Linked DNA regions of Homo sapiens: region 1 is linked to region 2. A link means that fine-mapping ties the variant in region 2 to the expression of a gene that starts in the linked region. Tissue or cell type: skeletal muscle. Region 2 holds a variant in brackets; the other region holds the start of a gene. All regions are shown on one strand. Distances are from middle to middle.

The links. PIP is the estimated chance that this variant, and not a neighbour inherited with it, causes the effect.
Region 1: CERS3-AS1 starts here. The variant in region 2 is fine-mapped to the expression of CERS3-AS1 in skeletal muscle (GTEx, PIP above 0.99).

Annotation. Positions count from the first base shown.
Region 1 is chr15:100,367,794-100,379,055 of GRCh38, forward strand. It overlaps CERS3-AS1 (CERS3 antisense RNA 1), which reads left to right and starts at 5,146. Exons shown (of 5, transcript NR_120374.1): 1 at 5,146-5,199.
Region 2 is chr15:100,482,016-100,490,015 of GRCh38, forward strand. CERS3 (ceramide synthase 3) reads right to left here. Exons shown (of 12, transcript NM_001378789.1): 5 at 2,535-2,653. Among named protein-coding and RNA genes, the nearest start is that of CERS3, 43 kb to the right of the region's middle. The variant C/T (reference allele first, on the strand shown) is at 4,243.

The sequences.
Region 1 (11,262 bases), 110 kb before region 2:
TACAGAACTCTCCACCCCAAATCAACAGAATATACATTTTTTTCAGCACCACACCACACCTATTCCAAAATTGACCACATAGTTGGAAGTAAAGCACTCCTCATCAAATGTAAAAGAACAGAAATTATAACAAACTGTCTCTCAGACCACAGTGCAATCAAACTAGAACTCAGGATTAAGAAACTCACTTAAAACTGCTCAACTACATGGAAACTGAACAACCTGCTCCTGAATGACTACTGCGTACATAATGAAATGAAGGCAGAAATAAAGATGTTCTTTGAAACCAACGAGAACAAAGACACAACATACCAGAATCTCTGGGACACATTCAAAGCAGTGTGTAGAGGGAAATTTATAGCACTAAATGCCCACAAGAGAAAGCAGGAAAGATCCAAAATTGACACCCTAACATCACAATTAAAAGAACTAGAAAAGCAAGAGCAAACACATTTCAAAAGCTAGCAGAAGGCAAGAAATAACTAAAATCAGAGCAGAACTGAAGGAAATAGAGTCACAAAAAACCCCTCAAAAAATTAATGAATCCAGGAGCTGGTTTTTTGAAAGGATCAACAAAATTGATAGACCACTAGCAAGACTAATAAAGAAGAAAAGAGACAAGAATCAAATAGACGCAATAAAAAATGATAAAGGGGATATCACCAGCGATCCCACAGAAATACAAACTACCATCAGAGAATACTATAAATACCTCTACCCAAATAAACTAGAAAATCTAGAAGAAATGGATAAATTCCTTAACACATACACCCTCCCAAGACTAAACCAGGAAGAAGTTGAATCTCTCAATAGACCAATAACAGGCTCTGAAATTGAGGCAATAATTAATAGCTTACCAACCACAAAGAGTCCAGGACCAGATGGATTCACAGCCGAATTCTACCAGAGGTACAAGGAGGAGCTGGTACCATTCCTTCTGAAACTATTCCAATCAATAGAAAAAGAGGGAATCCTCCCTAACTCATTTGATGAGGCCAGCATCATCCTGATACCAAAGCCAGGCAGAGACACAACCAAAAAAGAGAATTTTAGACCAATATCCTTGATGAACATTGATGCAAAAATGCTCAGTAAAATACTGGCAAACCGAATCCAGCAGCACATCAAAAAGCTTATCCACCATGATCAAGTGGGCTTCATCCCTGGGATGCAAGGCTGGTTCAATATATGAAAATCAATAAATTTAATACAGCACATAAACAGAACCAAAGACAAAAACCACATGATTATCTCAATAGATGCAGAAAAGGCCTTTGACAAAATTCAACAACTCTTCATGCTAAAAACTCTCAATAAATTAGGTATTGATGGGACGTATTTCAAAATAATAAGAGCTATCTATGACAAACCCACAGCCAATATCATACTGAATGGGCAAAAACTGGAAGCATTCCCTTCAAAAACTGGCACAAGACAGGGATGCCCTCTCTCACCACTCCTATTCAACATAGTGTTGGAAGTTCTGGCTAGGGCAATTAGGCAGGAGAAGGAAATAAAGGGTATTCAATCAGGAAAAGAGGAAATCAAATTGTCCCTGTTTGCAGATGACATGATTGTATATCTAGAAAACCCCATCGTCTCAGCCCAAAATCTCCTTAAGCTGATAAGCAATTCAGCAAAGTCGCAGGATACAAAATCAATGTACAAAAATCACAAGCATTCTTATACACCAATAACAGACAAACAGAGAGCCAAATCATGAGTGAACTCCCATTCACAATTGCTTCAAAGAGAATAAAATACCTAGGAATCCAACTTACAAGGGACGTGAAGGACCTCTTCAAGGAGAACTACAAACCACTGCTCAATGAAATAAAAGAGGATACCAACAAATGGAAGAACATTCCATGCTCATGGGTAGGAAGAATCAATATCATGAAAATGGCCATACTGCCCAAGGTAATTTATAGATTCAGTGCCATCTCCATCAAGCTACCAATGACTTTCTTCACAGAACTGGAAAAAACTACTTTAAAGTTCATATGGAACCAAAAGAGAGCCCACATCGCCAAGTCAATCCTAAGCCAAAAGAACAAAGCTGGAGGCATCATGCTACGTGACTTCAAACTATACTACAAGGCTACAGCAACCAAAACAGCATGGTGCTGGTACCAAAACAGAGATATAGATCAATGGAACAGAACAGAGTCCTCAGAAATAATGCCGCATATCTACAACTATCTGATCTTTGACAAACCTGAGAAAAACAAGCAATGGGGAAAGGATTCCCTATTTAATAAATAGTGTTGGGAAAACTGGCTAGCCATATGTAGAAAGCTGAAACTGGATCCCTTCTTTACACCTTATACAAAAATCAATTCAAGATGGATTAAAGACTTAAACGTTAGACCTAAAACCATAAAAACCCTAGAAGAAAACCTAGGCATTACCATTCAGGACATAGGCATGGGCAAGGACTTCATGTCTAAAACACCAAAAGCAATGGCAACAAAAGCCAGAATTGACAAATGGGATCGAATTAAACTAAAGAGCTTCTGCACAGCAAAAGAAACTACCATCAGAGTGAACAGGCAACCTACAAAATGGGAGAAAATTTTCGCAACCTACTCATCTGACAAAGGGCTAATATCCAGAATCTACAATGAACTCAAACAAATTTACAAGAAACAAACAAACAACCCCATCAAAAAGTGGGTGAAGGACATGAACAGACACTTCTCAAAAGAAGACATTTATGCAGCCAAAAGACACATGAAAAAATGCTCACCATCACTGGCCATCAGAGAAATGCAAATCAAAACCACAATGAGATACCATCTCACACCAGTTAGAATGGCGATCATTAAAAAGTCAGGAAACAACAGGTGCTGGAGAGGATGTGGAGAAATAGGAACACTTTTACACTGTTGGTGGGACTGTAAACTAGTTCAACGATTGTGGAAGTCAGTGTGGCGATTCCTCAGGGATCTAGAACTAGAAATACCATTTGACCCAGCCATCCTATTACTGGGTATATACCCAAAGGACTATAAATCATGCTGCTATAAAGACACATGCACATGTATGTTTATTGCAGCACTATTCACAATAGCAAAGACTTGGAACCAACCCAGATGTCCCACAATGATAGACTGGATTAAGAAAATGTGGCACATAGACACCATGGAATACTATGCAGCCATAAAAAATGATGAGTACATGTCCTTTGTAGGGACATGGATGAAATTGGAAATCATCATTCTCAGTAAACTATCACCAAGGACAAAAAAACCAAACACCACATGTTCTCACTCATAGGTGGGAATTGAACAATGAGAACACATGGACACAGGAAGGGGAATATCACACTCTGGGGACTGTTTTGGGGTGGGGGGAGGGGGGAGGGATAGCATTAGGAGATATACCTAATGCTAAATGAGAAGTTAATGGGTGCAGCACACCAGCATGGCACATGTATACATATGTAACTAACCGGCACATTGTGCACATGTACCCTAAAACTTAAAGTATAATAATAAAAAATAAATAAATAAATAAAAATAAATAAAGAAAGAAAAAGATATATAGATGGAAAATAAATTTTGACAGGTGCTCAATATCATTAACTAGTCTTTAGGGAAGTGCAAATTTAAAACTCCAATAAACTAACCACACTAAGTGTTGGTGAGGATGTGAAGGAATTGGAACTTTTTGTACATTACTGGTGAGAACATAAAATGGTACAACCACATTTTGGCAGCTTCTTAAAGAGTTAAACATCCACCTACCCAGCATATACCTATACAAAGACTTGTAAATGAATGATCATGACAGTTTTATTTGTAATATCCCCAAATGCAAGCAATCCAAATGCTGAACAGGTAAACAGACAAGCAGAGTGTAGAATATAGAATATACAATGGAATAAACAATTATGAACTAGGTATACCTGCAACGATATAAATGAATCTCAGAATAACTATTGAGTAGGGGAAGCCAGACTGAAGGAAAGAACGGATGTTCCTTTTTATGGCCGCTTAGCATTCCATGGTGTATAGGTACCACATTTTCTTCATCCAATCCACTGCTGATGGGCATCTAGGTTGATTCCATGTCTTTGCTATTGTAAACAACGCTTTGATGAACATATGGGTGCACGTGCCTTTTTGATAAAATGACTTACTTGCCTTTGGGTATATACCTAGTAATGGATTGCTGGGTCGAATAGCAGTTCTAAGTGCTTTCAGAAATCTCCAAACTGCCTTCCACAGTGGCTGAACTAGTTTTTATTCCCAGCAAGTGTATAAGGGTTCCCTCTTCCCCGCAGCCTCACAAGCATTGGTTGTTTATTGACTTTTTCATAATCGCCATTCTGACCGGTGTGAGACGTTATCTCATTGTGGTCATGTCCTTCGCAGCAACATGGATGGCAGCCATTGTCCTAAGGAATTAACCCAAGAATGGGAAACCAAATAACGCATGTTCTCACTTATAAGTGGGACCTAAACATTGAATACACATAGACATAAAGATGGGAGCAGCAGACACTGGGGACGACTAGGGAGGGAGGGAGGCAGGGAGGGAGTGGAACAGAACGTGGGCTGAAAAACTACTACTCACTACCTGGGTGACTGGATCATCTGTACCCCAACCTTCAGCACCCTGCAATATACTCATGAAACAAACCTGCACATGTACCCTTTAATCTAAAATAAAAGTTGAAATTGTTTTTTTAAAAAAGAGCACATAGTATATTATTCCATTTACATAAAATTTTAGAAAACACAAATGAATGTGTTGACAAATCAGTGGTTGCCTGGAGAAGGGGGAGTGCAGAGAGGTACATGGGGAATAAATTATAAAGGGACTGGAGGAGATGTTTGGAGGTGGTGAATGTGTTCACTATGTTGATTGCGGTGATGATTTCATGGACGTACACATCTGTAGAAACGTTGGTGTGTACATATGTTGTATTCTCAAATTGTCCACTCTGAGTACGAGCAGTGGGGATTAAGAGGAAAATAATAGTAGAGAACAAAATCAGAGCTTGGCATGGCTCTCTGCTGGCACCGTGCAGGGTGTGATTACATCAGATCTGTGCAACTCAGATCTTGGGGAGGGGTTGGGGGGTGGAAGGTGGAGGGAGGAAGGGAGAGAAAACAGAGGGCGGGAAGAAGGGAAGGAAGTGAAGAAGGGAATGAGGGACGGAAAGAGAGAGACAGCGAAGAGAGGAGAAAGGTGAGTGCATTCTGGAAATCACCGGCAGCTCCGCTCCGCAGAAAGGCCTTGGCCTGTGCCATCTGAGGGTGAAGTTACGTGGTTATCAAATTCCCCTTCCCTGGAGCCCCTGGCAAGAAGTTGATGCCAGAAACAGACGGAGGGGGTGCGAGGAGGGAGGGAATCAGACCTTTTGTTTCTCTTTTTCCCCCTAGGACCTGGTCTCATGCTTCTCCCCCTCATCTCTCCCAGGGCACCCCTCCGACCCCCGCTGCGAGGGGTTTCCCGCGGGAGGTGGACGAAGCGTGGGCCAGGACAGGCGCCTGGCACTGGGGTTTCAGAGCCGCGAGTAGGCCCTGAAGGCCGGGAGGGACCGCCAGTCCCCACTGGAAGCCGCTTCCGTGCAGCCCGGGACAGGTGCGCGGCGCCCCTCGCCTTCGCCTCCGCTTCTGCTCTTCCCCTCGCGGCCCCGCGCGCCCGCGCCCTCCGCCCAGACCCCGGTGCAGCCCGGCCAGGCGCGGCGGCGGCGGCGTCTCCAGCGAGGGAAGGTCGTCCTCACGCGCTCCGGCCTCAGGGCGCCTCTCCGCCCGGCCTCGCAGCCTTCCCGTCCTGCCCACGGCCGAGGCCGCGGCTGTCGGGGTGGCCTGGACGGGTGCAGGGCTGGGCGGGGGCGGCAGGACTTGAACCGGCGCCTGCTCTCGCGGAGGCAGCAGCAGAGCTCACCCCTTTCTCGGGAAATGGTTTATCGTGGATAAAACGCAGTCCCCAAAGCGAAGGTCCGACGGGCGGCCAGACGCACCCCGGGGACCTTCAGGTGGACACACGGGGCCTCCGCGCGCCGAGCCGCGAGGGAAGAGGGGCGGCGGGAGGGAGGGAGCAGTGGGCGGCCGGGGAGCCTGGCAGAAGAGTGGGGGCGAGCAGGGAAGGAGGGGCGTCGGGAGGCGGGGGGAGGGGCGGTGAGGACCCCAGTGGGGTGGGGGCGGGGTGGAGCCGAGAAGAGCCGGGAGAGTGGGGACCCTCTGGCCACTCCAGAAAGACCTACTGGATCTCCTCTCCTGCCCTCGCTCACCCTTACCCTCTGTCTCCCATTCACTCTTCGGTTTGCTCTGGTGATTCATTCTCTCTCTCTTTCTCCTTCCCTCCCTCCCTCCCTGTCTCTCCCTCCCTCCCTCTCTCTCCCTCCCTCCCTCTCTCTCCCTCTCTCCCTCCTTCCCCCACCCAATCCTGGGCTGCTGCGTGAGCTTTACACTGAGGTGCCCAAACCAGCGCAGTCGTGGTGCCTGCAGAGGCTGGACTAGCCCCTGCAGGTGACCACAGACTCTCTGCAGTAACCCCCAGCCAGGCATTTTCCTGAGCACTCTCATCAGAAGGACCACATTTGGTCACTCTGTTCTTGGATGTCCCTCTTGTGCCGGAAGCCCATAATTTGACTTGATTTGTTGAATTGCTCCCGATTGTTTTTTTTTCTTAATTCTAAGAGATAGGTATAATGAGATGGTTGTCATGGCCCATTTAATAGAATCAGGGACCAAAAGACACCCATCCCATCGTTCAACTTCCCATCTATTTTCTCACCCTAGCAGGGTTTCTTCGCTGGATGGGGAAAGGAGCTGACCCATCCTTACCACCCCCCTAATTCCTTTATTAGCACCTAAAAAGAAATGAGGATCAAGCCATGAAAAGACATGAGGAACCTTAAGTGTATATTATTAAATAACAGAAGCCAATCTGAAAACTACATGCTGTATGATTCCAACTATAGGAGATTCTGGAAAAGGCAAAACTATGGAGGCAGTAAAGAATTTTGAGACAGGATTTCATTCTGTCACCCAGGCTGGAGTGCAGTGGCACGATCGTGGTTCACTGTACCCTCGACCTCCTGGACTCAGATGATCCTCCCACCTCAGCCTCCTGAGACTACAGGCACGTGCCACCATGCCTGCCTCATTTTTTGTAGAGATGCGGATTTGCCATGTTGCCCAGACTGGTCGCAAACTCCTGGACTCAAGCAATCCACTTGCCTCGGCCTCCCAAAGTGCTGGGATTATAGGTGTGAGCCATTGCTCCTGGCCTCTTGTTGAGTTTTAAGAGTTCTTTCTATATATTGGATAACAGTCCTTTATCAGATATATCTTTTACAAACATTTTCTCCCAGTCTGTAGCTTGTCTTCTGATTTTCTTGACAGTGTCTTTCTCAGAGTAGAAGTTTTTAAAAGTCCAGCTTATCAATTATTTCTTTGATGGATTGTATCTTGGGTGTTGTATCCAAAAAGTCATCTTCAAACCCAAGGTTATCTAGACCTTCTCTTATGTTATCTGCTAGGAGTTTTATATTTTTGCGTTTTACGATTAGGTCTATGATTAATTTTGAGTTAATTTTTGTGAAGGGTGTAAGGTCTGTGTGTAGACTCACTATTTTGCTTGTGGATATCTAGTTGTCCCAGCACTATTTGTTGAAGAAAAACTGTCTTTTCGCCATTGTATTGCCTTTGCTCGTTTGTCAAAGATAAGTTGACTATGTTAGTGTGGGTCTGTTTCTGGGCTCTGTACTATTCCATTAATCTGTTTGTCTATTTTACCAATACCACACTGTCTTGAGTATTGTACCTTTATAGTAAGTCTTGAGACTGGGTAGTGTCAATCATCTGACTTTGTTCTCCTTCAGTATTTTTATGGCTACTGTGGGTCTTTTGCTTCCCATATAAACTTTAGAATCAGTTTGTCAATATCCACAAAATAACTTGCTGAGATTTTGATTGGGATTGCGTTGAGTCTGTAGATTGAGTTGAGAAGAACTGACATCTTGACAATAATGCATCTTCCTATCTGTGAACATGGAATATCGCTCCGTATATTTAGTACTTTGATTTATTTCATCAGAGTTTTGTACTTTTCCTCATACAGATCTTATACGTATTTTGTTAGACTTAAACCTAAGTATTTCATTGTGTGGGGGTGCTAAATGGTACATGTTTTTAATGTCAAATTCCACTTGTTCATTACTGGTATATAAGAAAGTGATAGACTTTTGTATATTAACCTTATATACTGTAAACTTGCTATAATCACTTCTTATAGGCTTTTTTTTGTCAATTCTTTCTGATTTTCTCCATAGATGATCATGTCATCTGAGCGCAAAGACAGTTTCTTTCTTTCTTCCCAATTCAATTATCTTTTATTTCCTTTTCTTGTCTTATTTCATAAGCTAGGACTTCCAGTATTATGTTAAATAGCAGTTGTGAGAGGGGACATCCTTGACTTTTTCCTGATCTTAGCAGGAGAACTTCTAATTTCTCACCATTGAGTATAATTTTACCTGCAGGATTTTTTTTTTTGGATGTCCTTTATCAAGTTAAAGAAGTTCTCCTTTCTTCCTAGTTTGCTGAGAATTCAGGATAATTTGATTGGGGTATAATTACAAGCAGTAAAATGAACACATCTTAAGTGTTCATTTGAACATTTTGAGAGTGGTATTCACTCAGGTAACCACAACTCCAAATAAGACACAGAACATTTCTATCACTTAAAAAGTTTCATAATTTCCCAGTCAATTCTCCCCATCTCAAAAAAAACCACTTTCTAATTGCTATAATCTAAGATTATTTTTGCCTGTGTTTGGACATTGTACAAATTATTCCATGCAATAGGTATCGTCTCTGACATCTTTTAGCCAACATGATATTTTGGAGATTCATCCATGTTGCAGTATGTATCACTTGTTTATTCTTTTATATTACAGAGTAGATTCCATTGTATAAATATACTTTGATTTATTTATCAGTTCTCCTTGATGGACATTTGAAAATATATTCAGTGTTTGGCTATTATAATGATGCCGTTTGATGAGCAGAGACTTGTTAATTTAACATTTTACTTCATAGTTAGTGCTTTTTGCATCCAATCTAAAAAATCTTTATCTACATCAAAGTCTCAAACATATGTTCTTATGTTTTATTGTAGTTTTATTGTTTTAGCTTTTACATTCAGGTCTATGATCCATTTCTTTTTTTTTTTCTGTTCTGTACAAGGTTGTAATACTTTTTTTTTAATTTTTATTTTATTATACTTTAAGTTCTAGGGTACATGTGCACAACTTGCAGGTTTGTTACATATGTATACATGTGCCATGTTGGTGTGCTGCACCCATTAACTCATCATTTACATTAGGTATATCTCCTAATGCTATCCCTCCCCCCTCCCCCCACCCCACAACAGGCCCCGGTGTGTGATGTCCCCCTTCCTGTGTCCAAGTGTTCTCATTGTTCAATTCCCACCTATGAGTGAGAACAAGCGATGTTTGGTTTTTTGTCCTTGCGATAGTTTGCTGAGAATGATGGTTTCCAGCTTCATCCATGTCCCTACAAAGGACATGAACTCATTCTATGATCCATTTCAAATTAATTTTTGTCTCTGGTGTGAGTAGAGGCTAAGGTTCACAGCAACTTCTGTCTCCCAGGCTCAAGCGATCCTCCAGTCTCAGCCTCCTGAGTAGCTGGGACTACAGGCATGTGCCCCCATGCCCAGCTATTTTTTTTTTTTTTGTATTTTTGGTAGAGGTGGGGTTACACCATATTGCCCAGACTAGTCTCGAGCTCCTGAGCTCAAGCCATCCACCCACCTTGGCCTCCCAAAGTGCTGGGATTATAGGCATGAGCCACTGCGCCTGGCCTATTTCATAGATTCTAAGATGCATTTCTTTTTTTTTCTCATTTTAGCATCTCTGAGGTTGGGGTGCATCTTAACATCATTGTCCACAAACTGTCCTGTGCTGTCATTTTCCCTGTGTCTGAACAAACTTGGTAGTTACACCCGTGACTTGATTGGGTGACCTCAACCTTTGATGTTTCAGTCAATGAACCATTCAGGCATCATTGAGATCATTTTCATCTTGCTTATTTTCCTGAACATCTTTCTGTGAAAATCAAACAAGTCCAAGGATCAAACTCCCAGGTGTCAACAGCTTGGAAGGGTTCCACACACTTTTAAGAAATTTTCTGGCCAGGCACGGTGGCTCATGCCAGGAATCTCAACACTTTGGGAGGCTGAGGTGGGCAGATAGCTTGACGCCAGAAATTCAAGACCAGCCTGGGCAACATGGCAAAAGCCTGTCTCTGTGGAAAATACAAAAATTAGCCAGGCGTGGTGGTGTGCGCCTGTAATCCCAGCTACTCAGGAGGCTGAGGCAGGAGAATCGCTGGAACCTGGGAGGCAGAGCCTGCAGTGAGCTGAGATCGCGCCACCGTACTCCAGACCGAGCGACAGAGCAAGACTCGGTCTCAAGAAAAGAAAAAAAAAAAATGCAACTGAAGGAAACCTAGTGTGCAGAAATGTTTTGAAGAAAACTTCAAAAAAAAATTCTATTAGTCTTAAAGATATGAGAAGATATTACATCCATTAAAGAAGAATAATTTACCATAAAAAATTCAAACAATGAAAAGGGCTCTTAAAAATTTAAAACATGGCTGGGCACAGTGGCTCACACCTGTAATCCCAGCACTTCGGGAGGCCGAGGCAGGCAGATGACCTCAGGTCAGGAATTTGAGACCAGGCTGGCCAACAGGGTGAGACCCCATCTCTACTAAAAATACAAAAAATTAGCTGGGCATGGTGGTGTGAGCCTGTAATCTCAGCTACTTGGGAGGCTGAGGCAGGAGAATTGCTTGAACCCAGTAGGCGGAGGTTGCAGTGAGCCGAGAAAAGAAAAAGAAAAAAGAAATTTGTGAGAGCTGAGCATAAGCCACACTAAATGCACACACAGGAAATATTAATACGTATTAGTTATGTTTTGAGGGCATATGTTCACAAATACAAAACCTCTGGGGAGGCTGAGGCGGGTGGATCATGAGGTCTGGAGTTCAAGACTAGCCTGGCCAACACAGTGAAACCCCCTCTCTACTAAAAATACAAAAATTAGCTGGGCGTGGTGGCAGGTACCTGTAGTCCCAGCTACTCGGGAGGCTGAGGTGGGAGAATTGCTTGAACTCGGGAGGCAGAGGTTACAGTGAGCCAAGATTGTGCCACCACGCTCCAGCCTGGGTGACAGAGCAAGACTCTGCCTTTTCTTTCTCAAAAATCCCTGGAGTC
Region 2 (8,000 bases):
GTTTTCACTTCGAATACAGTAAATACCAATAGGTATAACACACACAAATGCTCTTTGGCATTTCCAAGAGTTTTTCAGAGACCAAGGGGTCTTGACACCAAAAAGTTGGAGAATTGCTGCACTTCACTGAAAAGATGAATGATAATATCCTTGTCAATGTCATTTCACTAGTTTCACCTAAGAGTAAAACTTCTTTTATTTTTTTCCAGGAAAGAATGAGATAAACATAAACGTGGGGGGAGAGAAAACCCACTGAAAAGCCATTCAGAAACGAATTGGTTGGGTAACAATGGTGATAGTGAAAGGAGGGACTGCAGGGTGCAGCCAGGGAGGAATGGGCAGAGTGGTGAGAGACACTGCTGGGGCCAGATGGGAGGCCTGTGGTGGGGACGCTGCATAGAGTGGGCCGTGGACTGCATGGATCAGATGAGGGTAAGGCCGCATCCACCCAGCCGGGGAGAGCCCTTTCTCCAACACTGAGGAGTTCTCCTACCTGGATACCTAAGGACTTGGTGTTCCTTCTTATTGCTAGGTGGAAATCTGTATTTTAAAATGAAAAAGTGGTCAGCTAATGTGGAATTTGATTTTTTTTTTTTAAAAAAAAGGGCCCATTATGTATTAAAATCCTGAATGCTGTGGAATAGAGCACAAGGGTCACCATGAGAGAAAGTCACCAAGGAACAAACACACTGAACCCAACGTGCCTGGGGGCTCATCCCTCTGGATGTTACAAAGGAATTTTTGCCTGTTGGAAAGTAATTTTAGGAGCTGGGGTTAAGAAATAAGCGCCCGGAGATTTTCAAAAGGCTTGAGGTTAGGTAACTCATGCTGTGATTTCTGTAGCACATCCCACAGCTGATTTTTAAAAAGCAGAGTCCCTGTACAATTCAACATGGCACTAGGTTTAGTCTGTTTATCTAGTCCATAATAACTTTTAACTTAGAATAAACATGTGACATTGCTAAAGAATAAGATAAGGCTTAAATTTTATTCATGGGCCCACTTACTGTGTCCTGAATATATTGCATAATTTCCTGCTTTGTGTCTTTGCTTTACTTGAAAATACTGCCTCAAACCTGCTTTCTTTTCTTTTGGCAACCTGACCCATTCTTCAAGGTCCAACCTATGTCTTCCCTTCTCTAGAAAGCCTTTCTTTAACTACTTCAGCCATGCTGATGCCATCACCTCTAAATTCCCACGACACATCTAAACATGATGTTGTATCTGCTGGTGTACACTCCCATGTGCCACTGGGGTGGCGCGACAATAGATGTTGTGGTTTCGTGTGTGATAATCTGGCCTCCCTAATTCACTGTTTAAGGCCGGTAACCACGACTCACATGTTACCCCCTTCTTAAAATCTAGAACGCCACAAAATCTAGGACAGTGCTATGCACAGAAAAGATACTAACCTGTACCTCTGCATTGCCTGACTGATTGATAAGGGTAACTCAAAATTCCCTTCTCCAGCCTGAACTCTGGAAGAATTTTAGTAGGCTTACTGACATGGCCAGATGCCCAAATATTACTCAATTTAAGGATCCTCTGCTTGCTGGGAGGTAAGCATTAGGTGCCAGGGGCAGTATGATACAACAAGAAATAGTATCGGAATAGGAGTCAGAAGATCTGAATGCAACAGCCATTCAAACACCTAAGAGACCCTTAAACTAGATGGATGTGCAGTTTCTCATTGAAACAGGATAGCCCCAACTTCCCTGACTGTCTCACATCATTGGCAGAAGGATCAATAATAATAATAATTATTATTATTATTTTTTTTTTTGAGACAGAGTCTTGCTCTGTCACCCAGGCTGGAGTGCAGTGGCGGGATCTCGGCTCACTGCAAGCTCCGCCTCCCAGGTTCACGCCATTCTCCTGCCTCAGCCTCCCGAGTAGCTGGGACTACAGGCGCCCGCCACCACGCCCAGCTAATTTTTTGTATTTTTAGTAGAGATGGGGTCTCACCATGGTCTTGATCTCCTGACCACCTCTACTAAAAATCCTGGGAAACCAAGAGGATGGGCTGTGCACCCTACAGGAGGGCTGGGGTCATGAGCCACGCCACACAGAGAGGCCTTCTCAGTGTTCTGAGAGGGAACACACGTCCTTGCAGACATTCTCTGCTCTTACAGTTGTGATGGTTGGATACAGGTGATAAAGTCTGGTGACTTAGGGCCAACCCTGACCCTAAGAAAAGAGAAACACCAGTTAAGACATTTTTATGATTTTTTCTGGGTTTCAGGCTGAGTACATAACATCTCCTGTTCATCTTAGAGAGTTCATAGTGTGGGAGTCTGTCTGAATCTATTCTGGTTCGGGAGGCCCGATAAATAGAGTTCAGAGCTTACTTGATTTATAAAGGAGTGGAGGAAGCAGAGAAGGCAAATATGTGAGGAGCCTAAAACACCACATCAGTGGGTGACAGAGCTGGGTCTGAACCCTCCCTCTGCTGCTCCGGCAGTATTCTCTCTGCAAGGACCACTCAGCTCCAGATAGGACGGCAGCATTCCTAAAGCTTGGCCCATCCTCCTTACCAAGCTTCCTGGAATTTCTTCAGCCTGGAAGGCCTCTCTTGATTCCGCCGACTCCTAAACCATCTTTCCACCTGGCGCTCCGTCAAGTTACACTTCTTTGCCAGTCCATAAATATCAGTCTGAAAAGGGATGAAACGCATAAATGAGTGATAAAGAACAGAGTCAGACTGGCAGGCAGACAAGAGACGGAGATTGAGTTACAAGAGCTTCGGTACTGGGGATGAGAGAAATTCTGTCATGAGACCTGGAGCCAGGGAATTTACCTCTTTTGCTTATGGAATCACATATATGCACACATACCAAAAAACAAAATGTTACTATCCCAGCTCTCTAAGTTACTGAGAAAGATCAATTCTCCATACGCTGGCAGCAACCCGGCATTCAAGTTGCATGTGTGAGCTCACTTGTTCAGCTAAAATGTGCTTAGGACTTCCCAGGCGCCAGGTAGAGTAGCATAGTTTAAATCAAATCCAATAAAATCCAATCTCCTCATTTTTCCTATGGGGAACTGAAGCCCCAAGAAGTTCAGTGACTTGTCCAAAACCTAAAATTAGAAGCAAAGTGTGGACGAGAACTTAGGCTAGTGCATTTTGTTATTTCACATGATCTTTCTCACAGCTCCAGAAGATAATGCAGGAAAAACTCCAACCAGTGTTAGCCATCCACTTTTACATTTAATTATATAGAGAGCCTATTTCAAACTAATCCAAAATAATTTCAATAACAAAAATAACAATTGCAAAATATGATGATGATGATTGCTTCTCTTTTGGGAAGTAGAAGTTGTAGGCTATGATTTAAAATTGGAAACAATATGAATGATAGATCTGCTCAAATGTTACCAATTCGAAGGTCTCCCCAAGCCAGACAAGAAACATAAATGACCAAATGGACCAGGTCTGTTTCACAGTGGGATTTTAACATAGGCAAGTTTTGTACTTTAAACCTATGGTAACCTTCTCCACGTCTACAAAGAAATATGCTCATAAAAAATGCCAGCCCTCTTGATTTCTTATTTCCCAAGTAAGAATAAGAAATATTTCTGGCTGGGTGTGGTGGTTCACGCCTGTAATCCCAGCACTTTGGGAGGCCGAGAAGGCGGTCAGGAGTTCGAGATCTGCCTGGCCAATATGGTGAAACCCCATCTCTACTAAAAATACAAAAATTAGCTGGGCGTGGTGGTGGGCTCCTGTGATCCCAGCTACTCAGGAGGCTGAGGCAGGAGACTTGCTGGAATCTTGGGGGCAGAGGTTGCAGTGAACCAAGATTGTGACACTGTACTCCAGCCTGGGCGACAGAGAAGGACTCCATCTCTAAATAAATAAATACATAAATAAATAAAAGAAACATTTCCATTTCCTCTTAATTCTATTTTGTGAAAAATAAAATGGCATAAAACTGACCTTCAGCTTCAGTGCTGAGGAAAGAAGTGGGAGCCGTATGGATACAGCAGGCAGAGAAGCACACATCATGTCCCAAAAGGCCAGGCATGACCAAGATCTGGCGGACGCTTCCAGAGAAAACGTGCAGACCCAGGATTTTGATGAGAAATCACTAGGTTTTTAAAAATGTTGACCAATCCCTCAAAGTAAATTTAAACCAATTGTGGATGAGTATTGTGAGGGCCAAATAAAGCCTGCCTGTGGGCCAGATGGCTGAATACCCAAAAGTCTGTGACCAGCCGGATAGCTTCTGCTAGATTATCTTA[C/T]ATGTTCCCTTGCAGGAAGGAAAGAACACTGCAGTGTCAAAGCAATCGGATATGGTAGGAAGGGCAGGAAGCTGAAAACAGAAGATCCAGTTCTGCTACCTCCTAGCTATGTAGGCGTAAGCACCGCACTTTGACCCCCATGGAAAATGGGATATTAAGAGAATGTTTGCTACCCACCTCCGAGGGATGATTTGAGGACCAAGGGATTAGAATGTGCTAATGAAACTACTGAGTGCCGTGTCAGTGCTAGAGATTTTGATGACCAAACACAGAAAGGAAACCATGGACTACAAATCATTTAAGAAAAAAGTATTCCTTTACTTTTAACATAATTTGCAAACACGAACAGACCCCCAACATGGAGAATACAATTCAAATTCTGTTGGCTGGTGCACAGCAGGACATATTCTGGCATGCTGCTGCACTACACTCTGTGTGCTCAGACCGAAGGGGCTCTGGGCCTAGCTTTACTATTTCAAGTGTTTTGCCATTCATTCATTTGAAAGGATTTAAAGAGTCTCTAAGCACTGGTGCCAGGCACCATCTAGGTGTGGGAGATTCAGTAGTGAGCAAAACAAACTAAAGTCCTTGTCTTTATTCTGGAATATTCTCAGACCTTAGAACAACTCAATTTTATTCTCCCATGACTTCTGCAAATAATTGCCCAATGAATTATTAATAAACATATATAGAAGACAGTAACTGTTTATGAGTCGAAGCTTTTTTTTTCTATTTTGGAGTACAGAAGAATCTAGTTGGAAGTCAGTCTTGTCAATACTGGCCTCATGCACTATGATATTATTAAGAGAGAAAACTCCTTGCAAACAAAAGTGTCTAAAAGTGTTTTCTTGAATTAATGTGTGAAACATGAAGCATTTATTGACCATCTGTAATGACCAGAAAATAGTGCAAGATGTCATGGGAACAAAAACAAGCATGATTAAGAAACAAAGTGACAATTCCCTTGAGTGAGGAAGACATGCTTAAACACGCTCCTTTGGAAGTCAGTGCATGACAGGCACAAAGTTAATGGTACAAATAATAATAGCTGACCTTTACTGAGCATCTACTATGTGCCAAGCACTATTCTAAGCACTTTATATGTATTAACTCAATTTGATCCTCACAAGAGCCCTATGAGATAAGCAATATAATTATGCTCAATTCACAGAAGAGGAAACTGAGGCATGGGAAGTTTAATCTGTCCATCTCCACACAGAAAGTCGGTGACAGAGCCAGGCTCTAACCTTACATGGTCTGTCCTCACAATTTGTATTTTTAGCCTCTACACTACCTATTGCTGTGAACATTCAGAAGTGGGTTGGAACATGCAGGAAAGGTCTCTCTCAGACACAGCCTCAAGGAGAGGTCGAATGGCCTAAAGGAGGAGTGCTGAATGGGGCCAAGAGACCTGGCCTCTGGACTGAAAAGGGAACCCTCTGTGCCAGTAGAGGAGTCACCCTACCTCTTTGGCTCTCACATGTCTTCCCTGTACAATAAATAGCACTAGAAGAGGTTTTTGCTCTAAAAATGTTTGAATCTATGAATGACTCAAGCTAGCACACTGGAATACCTTTATTGAATGTAGTAACTGGCTTGAGTTCAGTCTCACAGTGCCACGTTTTCTTCAGATCTCTTCCAGAACTTACTTGCTCTGCATCAGTTCATATATATATAATTATTTTTTATTTTGCTAAGGAAAGGGCTAGATAATAAGTTCCACTGTTACTACACGTTACCTATAGCACTATAATTGATCTGTTGGTCAGAGTTGTTGGTCTTACCCCAAACATCTGGAAGTTGTTCTTGATACGCACACATACACACGTTATCAGACACACACCTGCATAGATACAATCATAAGAGAACTGTGCAATATCACAGACCAAAACTCTCACTGAGGCTCATGTGTATAGTATTTTAGGCCTCATCAATACCATGTTATGCCCTTCTGTGCTAACCAGCCCACAGTAGATGTCATATGCATGGAAGTGTTTTGTTTTCCTGGTGCAGCCTATAGCTGCTGAAGAAGCATCCTTGGGTCTGTGTACTCCATTGTTTCAATCAAGTCAGGTGTTATCTACAAATATTACCAATGCAATATTCTACTGTTTAGGTTTTGAATACTTTTTTTTAGTGGTAATACCCTAATCTTGAATCAGTACAAAACTGTTTTTCATCCACCCAGCAACTTGTCTTATTACCTCAGCCATAATTAAGCAAAGTGCTATCTGCATGACACTGGCCAGGTTAATGTGGTAGGTATGGTGAGACGAGTTTGTTTCTGTATCTGCAATTGCTATTAAGTCATGAACTCTGTCCTCCTGTATTACATTCTATCTTCCTAAGTCCTAGTGCTTTTAGGCTATGGACATTTTGCTGGCCAAATTATTGTTATCTTGATATACTATACGAATACTGCCTCAGTTTTTTAATCTCAGAGCAATATAATTTAGGAATCTTATATTCCTTCACCTTTTTGGTTCAATAGATGAAGCTAACACTTCGGGGGTGATATATAACTGTTTTTTTTTTTTTTAGATGGAGTCTCACTCTGTCACCAGGCTGGACTGTGGTGGCGCAATCTTGGCTCACTGCAACCTCCAACTCCCTGGTTCAAGCTGTCCTCCTGCCTCAGCCTCCCAAGTAGCTGGGATTACAGGCACTCGCCACCACGCCCAGCTAATTTTTGTATTTTTAGTAGAGACAGGGTTTCACCATGTTGGCCAGGATGGTCTCGATCTCCAGACCTCGTGATCCACCCACCTTGGGCTCCCAAAGTGCTGGGATTACAGGCGTAAGCCACTGCGCCCAGCCACTTTTTTTTTCCTTCTTACTGGATGCAAATGTCAAAATTCTGTCTTTATTAAACCATACTGTAATGTCAGTTGAGTTAGAATAATTACTATAAACACAGCACCAGTCTTTAAAATATATTTTTAACATTCCATTTACAGATAAAGAACTCACTGTAGCATGGTGGAAAGGTCACTGGACTGGAAGTATGGGCCAGGTTCTAGCTTTTGATTCAGCCACTCATTAGCCGAACGACCACTCATTTTCCTTTGGCTGGGCCTTAAGTTTCCTCATCTTAATCATGAAAAAGAAAGACTACCACCCTATAAACCTTTTCAGCTATCCTTAGTTTTCCTTTGGCCATTTTTTCTCCATAGCAGAGAAGCTTGGTAAGGACCAAATTTTCTAGATAATTTTAAATATTCTGAAAAGCTGACTAGAAGCTCTTAGCAATAGCAAGGATAGCAACGAATTGGTATTATAGCACTGTTCTTCCCATTTTATACAAAGTATTACTAAAGTTAGTTGTTCCCAAACAAAGAAGGATAATAAAGGACCCAGAAAGAGCCCTATCTTTTTTTAAACACAGCTAAATAATTTCCCATTTGAAACATATAAAGGGATGCTTAGGTATTATTATCACCAGTGGTAACAAAAGGATTTAGATGAATGATGGCAGTCATTTAAAGCACATGGGAATAAAAAACATATAAAGATGGCTTGTCAGACTATTCCTAGGTTACAAAAGCAGTCAAATACAGGAGCTGAGGGCAGAACAAGTTAGAGCCAGCTCTCACTTGCTATGAGCAATTCTGGACACCATATCTCACGCGAGGTGGTCAAACCTCAATGTGCTTTCATGTGCAGAGAAACCACGAGGAACAAATTAGAGCAATTGTCATAGTAGAGGCAACTTAATTCAGGAAATAAAGTTCAGGACCCTCAGAAATCTATTTATCCTA